2 linked regions of the Homo sapiens genome follow. The protein of the gene in region 2 interacts with the protein of the main gene of each other region in a biochemical or structural test. Each region holds a gene or a part of one and is shown on either strand. Other genes may lie near its edges.

Region 1 (5,256 bases), on a different chromosome or scaffold from region 2:
GATTCTCCCACCTCAGCCTCCTGAGTAGCTGGGACTACAGGCACCTGCCATCACGCCCAGCTAATTTTTGTATTTTCAGTAGAGACGGGGTTTCACCATATTGGCCAGGCTGCTTTTGAATTCCTGACCTTGTGATCCGCCTGCCTCGGTCTCCCAAAGTGCTGGGATTACAGGCGTGAGCCACGGCGCCCGGCCTGCCTTTAATTTTTTTTAAATGGTTGTCTTCCTGAGTTGCAAAAAAAAATTTTTTTTTTTGGAGACGGAGTCTCGCTGTGTCGCCCAGGCTGGAGTGCAATGGTGCAGTTTCGGCTCACTGCAGCCTCTGCCTCCTGGGTTCCAGAGATTCTCCCGCCTCAGCCTCCCGAGTAGCGGGGATTACAGGCACCTGCCACCACGCCCAGCTAGTTTTTGTATTTTTAGTAGAGACAAGGTTTCACCATGTTGGCCAAGCTATGTTGCCCCATCTGGGAGCAATCCTTCCACCCGAGCCTCTGAGTAGCTGGCACCACAGGCACCACCACCGTGCACGGCTCTTCTGGATGCTTTTTATTTTTTTTGAGACGGAGTCTCGCTTTGTCGCCCAGGCTGGAGTGCAGTGGTGCGATCTCGGCTCACTGCAAGCTCTGCCTCCCGGGTTCACGCCATTCTCCTGCCTCAGCCTCCCGAGTAGCTAGGACTACAGGCACCCGCCACCACGCCCGGCTAATTTTTGTATTTTCAATAGAGACGGGGTTTCACTGTATTAGCCAGGATGGTCTCGACCTCCTGACCTGGTGATCCGCCCGCCTTGGCCTCCCAAAGTGCTGGGATTACAGGCGTGAGCCACCGCGCCCGGCCTCTTCTGGAGCTTTTAAGATTTTCTCTTCACCAGCCTGTTCCAGCACTTTGATTATATAATGTACCTTGATATGGTTTTGGTTTTATCCTGCTTAAGACTGATATTCTTGGATTTGTGAGCTTACAGCTTTTCAAAAATTTGGGAAAAATTTTGGCCATAATTTTTTTTTTGAGACAGGGCTCTGTTGCCCAGGCTGGAGTGCAGTGGTACGATCATGGCTCACTGCAGCCTCCACCTCCTGCACTCAGGTGATCCTCCCGCCTCAGCCTCCCGAGTAGTTGGGACCACAGGCAGGCACTACCACGCCCGGCTAATTTTTGTATTATTTATAGAGACAGGGTCTTGCTATGTTGCCCAGGCTGGTCTTGAACTCCTGGGCTCAAGCGATCCACCCATGTCAGCCTCCCAGAGTGCTGGGATTTCGGGCAGGAGCCACCGTGTCCAGCCTTTTGGTCATATTTCTGTATTCTCTTCCCCACTGTTTTCTGGAACCTCAAATACGTTAGACCACATGATATTATGTCCTTGAAGCTCGGCTAAGTTTTTGCAGTCCTTTTTCTCCCTGTACATCACTGTGGACAGTTTCCATTGCTTTTAGTTCAGGAATCTTTTCTTCTGAAGTTTCTAATGTTTTGTTAAACCGCTCCGGTGACTCTGAAGAACCACCTTTTTACTTTAGAATACATGCCCTACACCAGTGTCCCCCATCATTAACATCCTGCCTTTGTGTGGTACAGTTGTCTCAAGAACATTAGACACATTGTTAACTAGGACCCACATTCTAATCAGATTCCTTAGCTTTTTACCCAATCCTTCCTCTGCTCCAGGACATCATCCAAAATCCATCCAGTTGTCACATCTTCTTCAGTCCCACTGACTCTGGCACCTTTCAGACTTGCCTAGTTTTTGAGAACCTTGACAATTTTGAGGACTCGTCAAACAGTTTGTGGAATGTCTCTCAATTTGGATTTGTTTGATGTTTTTTCATCATTAGCTGGGGTTACGTATGTTTTTGGGAGGAAGATCAAAGAGGTAGAGTGCTGTTCTCATCATCCTATCAAGAGTACACAACAGGCCGGGCGCGGTGGCTGACGCGCCCAACACTTTGGGAGGCCAAGGTGGGCGGATCACGAGGTCAGGAGATTGAGACCATCCTGGCTAACACGGTGAAACCCCATCTCTACTAAAAATACAACAAAATTAGCCGGGCGAGGTGGCGGGTGCCTGTAGTCCCAGCTTCGTGGGAGGCTGAGGCAGGAGAATTGCTTGGACCTGGGAGGTGGAGGTTGCAGTGAGCCGAGATTGTGCCACTGCACTCCAGCCTGGCAACAGAGCGAGACTCCGTCTCAAAAAAAAAAAAAAAAAAAAAAAGAGTACACAACAGTGATACGCATGTCACTGCTGATGGTGAGCATGGTCCCTGGTGAGGCTGTGTTGCTGGAGGTCTCCACTGGAAAGCTGCTCCTCCTGCTTCTGTGCTCTGCTCTTTGGAAGAGGGTCACTAGGTAAAGCCCAGGCTTCTGGAGTGAGGAGTTAAGCATCACCTCCTCGAAGGGGAACTATCTCAGTAAACAATGTGGAATTCTTCTACTTGGGAGATTAGTTCCAGTGACATTTTGTCCAACTTGCTTCTTTTCTGTATCTTCCATTTCTCAGTCATGTTTTCTTATTTTTTGAGACGGGGTCTCGCTCTGTCACCCAGGCTGGAGTGCAGTGGCACGATCTTGGCTCACTGCAAGCTCCACCTCCCGGGTCCAAGCAATTCTCCTGCCTCAGCCTCTGGAGGAGCTGGGACTACAGGTGCCCGCCACCACGCCCGGCTAATTTTTTGTATTTTTAGTAGAGACGGGGTTTCACCATGTTAGCCAGGATGGTCTTGATCTCCTGACCTCGTGATCCACCCGCCTCGGCCTCCCAGAGTGCTGGGATTACAGGTGTGAGCCACCACGCCCAGCCCTCAGTCACATTTTTGTGTTATTTCTTTGAGCACAGGGAACATTTTTATAATTGTTTACTGTCTTTGTTGGCTAATCCTATCAAAACTGGGCCTGCTACTGGACCCCCTCCAGTGACAAGTCCATTTTTCTGCTTTGGCTTGTCTGCCCATGACTGATTAGATTCTGGACGTGAATTTTTTTTTTTTTTTTTAGAAGGAGTCTTGCTCTGTTGCCCAGGCTGAAGTGCAGTGATGCGATCTCGGCTCACTGCAACCTCTGCCTCCCGGGCTCATGTGGTTCTCTTGCCTCAGCCTCCCAAGTAGCTGGGACCACAGGCGCCCATCACCACACATGGCTAATTTTTTGTAGTAGAGACGGCGTTTCACCATATTGGCCAGGCTGGTCTTGAACTCCTGACCTCAGATAATCCGCCTGCTTCGGCCTCCCAAAGTGCTGGGATTACAGGTGTGAGCCACTTCGCCTGGCTTCCTTCTCTCAAGAGTGCTGTGTGTACTCCGTGCTAGCAGGCAGTGGTGTTTCCAGGGCTTGCCTTGCACTTGTTTCCACGGCATTGGAGTGGCCTTTCCTCTGCAGCTTATTCTGCGCCACTTCCAAGCTGTGTTTCCTCTAAGGTGTCATGAAAGCTCCTTGTATTTAAAGTGGCTTCTATACTCTGGCTGGTGGGAACTGAAATAACCACGGCCCTGTGTGAGTCCTGCTCATCTGTCCCCTTACACTTACTCTTCCCCTTCAAGTTGCTCTTGGTCCAGCTCCACGAGGTTTCACTGTGTGCACCAGCAAATCGGATCCAACCCAAGATGCAAGCGGGCTCACGCGCAGATTGCTGGAGCTCTTTGTTTTGGGCGTAACTCCTTCCTTTCTGGTACCACACCCCACACATTCTAGCTGCCTCAGCTGCCCCAAAGTCTGGGTTTGTTGGGTTCTCTGCACGTGAGTCTGCAAATTCCCTCCACATAAAAAGCCTGGACAATTTTGTGGTTTACCTCAGTCCTCGCCGGTTTTTTCTTTTCTTTCTTTTTTTTTTTTTGAGACAGTTTCTCGCTCTGTGGCTGGAGCGCAGCGGCGCAATCTCGGCTCACTGCAACCTCTGTATCCCAGGTTCAAGTGATTCTCCTGCCTCAGCCTCCCGAGTAGCTGGGATTACAGGCACGCACCACCACGCCTGGCTATTTTTTTTTTTTTTGTATTTTTAGTAGAGACGGGGTTTCACCATGTTGGTCAGGCTGGTCTTGAACTGCTGACCTCAGGTGATCCAACCGCCTCAGCCTCCCGAAGTGCTGGGATTACAGCCGTGAGCCACCGTGCCCGGCCCTAGTTTTGTAACGTCTGAACATTTTCAGCGGCTTCTTATGCCTTAAGGGTTAAATCCAAGTTGAACATGTCAGGCAACCCCTACCTTAGGGGCCATTATGAATTTCACAGGGTCTGCTGGTGAACCCATCAGAGAACCCAGTGTCTCTCTCATCTTCCTGCCTCAGTGGAACAAGGTCCCTCCTCTGCTGACCACAGGCACCTCTTGGAGGAGTCACCGGTCATAACTGGATATCACGAAAACCTGCCACTGGAAATGGGAGGCCCCTGGCTGGTGCGAGATGCCACACGCTGAGAAGTGTAGGTGTCAGCAAACCCCGCAGCTTGCAGTAAACTTGGAGCCTGTGGCCTCATTTTCTGCAGCACTGTGAAGGACCTGAAATGTGTGTGAGATCCTGCCTGTAGGGACACCTTACATAGAAAGTGTCTGTGTCTCTGAGTATCTTCTCAAAGGGCTCCCTGGCCCAAAACGTGAACAGTGCCGTATTCTACAAGGTGGCCCCACAGCCCAGGCCACAAGCCTCTTGTTCCAGCCTCCTGCCAAGTCAAAGCTGTATCTGCTGACCGGTGATCTGGGCTCCTGGGCTCGGCTGGCCGGCTGTTCCCTCTCCGGGTCCCGGGAGTATAGGCTTTAGGAGCAAAGGGAGCGCGTGTGTGAGTAGCTGTGGCCCACGTGTGGGGAGCAGGGACCACCGGAGTCAGGGCATGGAAGCAGTGAGGCAGGCAGGAAGCGCGAGCAGGTGCAGACAAAGTGGCTCACTTTGTGGCCCCGTTCCCTGGTCTGGTTCTGTCCACATCTGAGCCACCCGCACCTTTCTCATAAACACTCTTCTTGTTTCCGCTCTGGAGGAGCTTCCAGCGTGTTCTCGCCACACAAGGACCAAGAGCAGCACAATCGCCCTCATCTCTCATCACATCTCGTCACTGGCTGCCGTGCACAAGTGTGGTGGCTACTGCTGCTCACCATGGCCCACAGGGTCACAGGGAGGAGGCTGAGGCAGCAGCAGCCCTTGCTGCCAGGTGCCTTGAGACATTTGGGACCACCTCCTTTCCTTAGACAGCCTCCCCTCCACCTGCCAGACCTTGAGGAGACCCTGGAGCCAACAGCCCTCAATATACCCGATGGGAGCTGCTTGCTTCCTCTGGGAA
Region 2 (5,256 bases):
AGAAAGAAAAGAATTCAACATTCTGGAGATCTTGATGAGGTAAAGGGATTGGTATATTGGGTTAAGGGCATGAGATACCTGGAAAGACGTGGTGTTTTTCAGGGAATGGGAAGTTGGAATATAAGATTTCAGATGTGGTACAGTTCCAGATAATGACAAAAGTCTGAGATGTGTCTTTTGAAGTGCATGGCTGAAGCACAGTGGAGGAGATAATGTTTGGAGTGAAGGAACTGGAAAAACTGACAGCCTAGATGCTAGAGGATTAGATGGTTTGTCCACATGTATGGTGAAGTCACCAGATATATTGGCAGGAACTGGGATAGACAGGGACCCAGGTGCTGAAGTCTTTAATGAAGGAAGGATGGTGCTTACGAGATAGAAGACAGTGTTGATTGGAGTCGAGGGTGATCTAGCTGGATGGTGGCCTTAAAGCAGCATTACTTTGTAGATGTTTATGTGACTAGAACAGCGAGATGGGTTGAGGTTCTGGTGTATTTGTGTGTATTATTCTTTCCTCACACCATCATATACCTGTTGTTTATCTCTTCTGCTTCTACTTCTTAATTACTTGTAAGATTTTTTAAAAGTCAATAGCTTTATTCATAGAAAATAACTAATGAATAATTGTGACCTTGTTGAGTTTAACGGCTCATTTTTCTTATTTCTTTGTGGAGACTAATACGATTGGTTTACTGGGCAGGAGGAACTAGACATTAGAACACTGCAAACCAAAAATCGCAAGCTGGCAGAAATGTTGGATCAGCGGCAGGCCATTGAAGATGAACTTCGTGAGCACATTGAAAAACTGGAACGACGACAGGCCACTGATGATGCCTCACTATTGATTGTCAACCGATACTGGAGTCAGGTAGCTAACTTGTTTATTTGTTCAGATTTTTATTTGACCAATTTAGTTCTCCTTACTGTTCTCTTCATTTCCAAAGTTGTGTCCTTTGTTTCTTCATAATTGTACCTACCCTTCTCCAGTTTGATGAAAACATCCGTATCATCCTTAAACGTTATGATCTGGAGCAGGGCTTGGGAGACCTACTCACAGAACGAAAAGCCCTTGTTGTGCCTGAACCAGAACCAGACTCTGATAGCAATCAGGAGCGTAAAGATGACCGAGAGAGAGGCAAGTGTTCGTGATGGATTCTATCACTGCATGCTATCTGGGTTTTTAAAGTAGAGCTCTGCTTTGAGGCTTTCCATTTGAGGGAAAAAAAATGGATTTTGTTATTTCCAGTTTATAATTTTGGGGGGCTTCTTTTTTTCCCCCTGTGTCCTCAGGGGAAGGGCAAGAGCCAGCTTTCTCTTTCCTTGCTACTTTGGCCAGCAGTTCCAGTGAAGAGATGGAGTCTCAGCTGCAGGAACGTGTGGAGTCTTCCCGCCGAGCCGTGTCCCAGATTGTGACTGTTTATGATAAATTGCAAGAAAAAGTGGAGCTCTTATCCCGGAAGCTAAACAGTGGAGGTGAGGCAAGACCCTGGAGGCCGGGAGTAGTGGAGGAGGAATAAGAATTCATTTTTGCATGCTAATTTGTAGTTTGCAAGCTTACATATTTATTTTTATTTATTTATTATTTACTTTTTAAGAGATAAGGTTTCACTGTGTCACCCAGGCTGGAACACAGTGGCACCATCATAGCCCATTGAATCCTCGAACTCAAGCAATCTTTCTGCCTCAGCTTCCGAATAGCTAGGACTATAGGCACGTACTACCACACCTGGCTAATATTTTAACCTTTTTGTAGAGAGGAAGTCTTGCTATGTTGCCCAGGCTGGTCTCAAACTTGGCCTCAAGAGATCCTCTCTTCTGGCCTCCCAAAGTGTTAGGATTACAGGCATGAGCCACTGTGCCTGGACTATATATTTTAATTAAATTTTTAGAAATTCTAACCTTCAGTGTTACTGGTAATGTCTTCATTATGGCATATTAATCTTTTATCAGTGCTTCTCATTTTGAGCCACATGACAGTCCTTTAATAAGCTGAGGAAAGAGTTTATCAGCTCTATACTGATATACTCTATTAATGACAGTTTTGTAAATAGCAGAATTAACTTTATTATTTAATAAACAGCTCTAATATCTGGATCTGTTTATCGTGTATGTAGGCTATTGATTTATAGTGATAATACTTTATTTTAAATAACAACTATATTATTTAATTATTAGTTACAGAATTTTGACTTGAAAAAGTTAATTTTTACTTAACTTATTTTTCATTATCGCTAATGTTTTTAAAAAGAGTTGGTGCAGGTTTTAGAGTTGACAGATGATCTGTATGGTTAAAAGGATTATTAGAAAATATTCTATGGATGAAAGAGTATTTGAAATAAAATAATTATTTGGGATAATTGTGTTACTCAGAGTTAATGCAAAAATTTAAATTTGTACAGTAAAGTATTTGTGTAGCTAGGTTACATCTTTAGTCATTTGTGGCATAAATACCTTGCTCAAATGCAAAAAAAATGCCTTGATTTCATGTTTTCAATAATAATCATGGTCTAGTTGTAATATCTTAATTTCCCTGCTTATCATTAAGATGTTTAACCTTTCATTTCTGAAGGAAATAAGTTGAATGTAATGGAGGTTGAACCATTGGATGAGCATATAAGAATTGTATTATTCTGTAATTTTGCTTTTAAGGGTAATTGGGCTAAGTTGTCAACAGAATTAAGCAGCTTGTAGAAGGCCTGTGAAAATTTGGTCACGGGTTTCTTTTGCTTTTCCATTAGATTATGCATTTCTGTATTTTATTATAAGGAAAACAGATACTTGTTTAAAAATATACAAGTCAGAAATACAAATAAGTAGACTACAAAAGTTTCCCCATTCTCATTTCTCAAAAGATAACCATTCTAAACAATGTGTTTTATGTCCTCTCAGACTTTTGTACTTTTGTATTAATATCTTACATCTACTTGCATGTCCCCAGCTAAACTGTGTCTTGGTTCAGTAGTTTGGCTCACTCTTCTTTGTTTCTCTAGTTTCTAGCACTGCATCTGGCATCTAGCAGATGTTTAGTCAATGGGGAATGAATGGATGTGAACCTCCCTGTCACCTAATATAAAATAATGGTGCTTTGTGTGTGCACATATGCTTCTTTCTCCTTGGGCTCTAATTGAATAGTTAGAAGGTATTGTTAAATTTTAGTAATATGGTAATTAATATGCCATGTGCATAGACTATGTTAAACTTGATTTCATAAATGAATATCAAGTGAAACAATTGTTTTATTTAAAAAGGGAATAAAATGAGTAGTATATCAAACGACTTTAAAATTACTATTTAATGGCATGCATTTTAAGGTCGGGTTTAAGTTAAAAAGTAGAAACATTACAAATAGCCATGCCATTATTTGTAACACAAAAGGCAATTGCCATTGGTAAGCTGAACTTTCTAAGAGATAAAGATGTATAAAGTATGAATTATAGCATCAGTTGTAACTTGTTTGAAAGTTCATCCCCCTGACTTAGACTGAAAATTGACATTCCTCAAATTCCTAGGACATCATCAATACAGTAGTTTCTACTTCCCCATTCCCTGTGGAATTTCTACCACGCCATTCCTCAATAACACTATACAGTCTTTTATATTTAGGGTAATTCATTATTTGGAGGTTTGGAGTTGTGTTGTGTTTTACAAAATCCCCTATGATATGATAGGCCTTCTAGAGTAAGGTAAGGCCTTCTAGAGCAAGTATAGGCCTTATAGAGTAAGGTCTATAAATTCATCTAACCCTGCCAGAGCGGCACTGTCTAACCTGCCACGGCAGTACTGTCTAACCGTGCCAGGGCGGCACTGTCTAACCCTTCCAGGGCGGCACTGTCTAACCCTTCCAGGGCGGCACTGTCTAACCCTGCCAGGGCGGCACTGTCTAACCTGCCAGAGCGGCACTGTCTAACCTGCCAGAGCGGCACTGTCTAACTCTGCCAGGGCGGCACTGTCTAACCTGCCAAGGCAGCACTGTCTAACCCTGCCAGGGTGGCACTGTCTAACCCTGCCACTGCAGTACTGTCCAACCCTGCCAGAGCGGAACTGTCTAACCTGCCAGGGCGGCACTGTCTAACCTGCCAGAGCGGCACTGTCTAACCCTGCCAGGGCGGCACTGTCTAACCTGCCAGGGCAGTACTGTCTGTTTGTTTGGTCTTTGATTCAAAAGAATTGCATTTATGGGCTTGTTTATAAATTCACTAAACATTTATTGAATTTTATTGTATTCTAGCCCTGTCCTCAGTGCTTAGGATATTGAGAGGACTAAAATTCAGTCTCTACTTCTTAACTCAGGTTATGAATCAGAATAACCTTGGGAGTTTTCTGAGCATATTCTTATTTTTGGCTTTGCCCATGGAGGTTCTTATTAAGTAGGTATGAGATAGGTCCTAGGGAAATGTCTATTTTAAAAGTTCCACAAGTGATTCTGATGGGCAAGCCTAGCTTGAAAACCATGAAAACCACCATATGACCAACCTGTTCTGTATTGATACTAAGAGTAATGCCAAGAGGTGATATGAGAAAGCATATTTTTCTTCCTGATAACTCTCTTTGATGGGTGGTATATATCCTGAGAGTATCTGGTTTCATTTAATTACATTTGGATTTCAGCTATAGTATTTGCAACTCTAATTTTAAACATACGAACTTGGTGTAATAAGTTCTATGGATTTACCTACCTGCTTTGTAAATAGTAGTGTACATTTTGGTTTTTAAGCTTCAGAAGTGCCCCTAACATAGTATTTCAGAATATATGATATGAGAATATGTGATAAGAGCATATGATTCTTGCTTTGTTATTCAGGCTGGTCTTGAACTCCTGGCCTCAAGTGATCGGCCTGCCTTGGCTTCCCAAGGTGCTAGGATTACAGCGTGAGCTGCTATACCTGGCCAAGGATACACAGTTTTAAAATTTGACACTATAGGCCAGGCACGGTGGCTCACACCTGTAATCCCAGCACTTTGGGAGGCTGAGGTGGGTGGATCACCTGAGGTCAGGAGTTTGAGACCAGCCTGTCCGACATGGTGAAACCCCATCTCTACTAAAAATACAAAAATCATCCGGGTGTGGTGGCATGTGCCTGTAATCCCAGCTACTCTGGAGGCTGAGGCAGGAGAATCGGCTCGAACCCTGGAGGCAGAGGTTGCAGTGAGCCGAGATCGCGCCACTGTACTCCAGCCTGGGCGATAGAGCAAGACTCCGTCTTAAAAAAAAAAAAAAAATGACACTCTAGATGCTAAATTAAAGTATAGTTCTTC

The links.
Region 1: the proteins of RNF20 (region 2) and HSF1 form a complex in vitro, tested with the Homo sapiens proteins (one study listed by BioGRID).

The regions. Positions count from the first base shown.
Region 1 is NC_000008.11:144,297,166-144,302,421, reverse strand, and holds part of HSF1 (heat shock factor protein 1), read right to left. Parts: intron 1-5,256. UniProt on the Homo sapiens protein: Functions as a stress-inducible and DNA-binding transcription factor that plays a central role in the transcriptional activation of the heat shock response (HSR), leading to the expression of a large class of molecular chaperones, heat shock proteins (HSPs), that protect cells from cellular insult damage.
Region 2 is NC_000009.12:101,539,503-101,544,758, forward strand, and holds part of RNF20 (E3 ubiquitin-protein ligase BRE1A), read left to right. Parts: intron 1-700; coding exon 701-868; intron 869-987; coding exon 988-1,135; intron 1,136-1,290; coding exon 1,291-1,473; intron 1,474-5,256. UniProt on the Homo sapiens protein: Component of the RNF20/40 E3 ubiquitin-protein ligase complex that mediates monoubiquitination of 'Lys-120' of histone H2B (H2BK120ub1).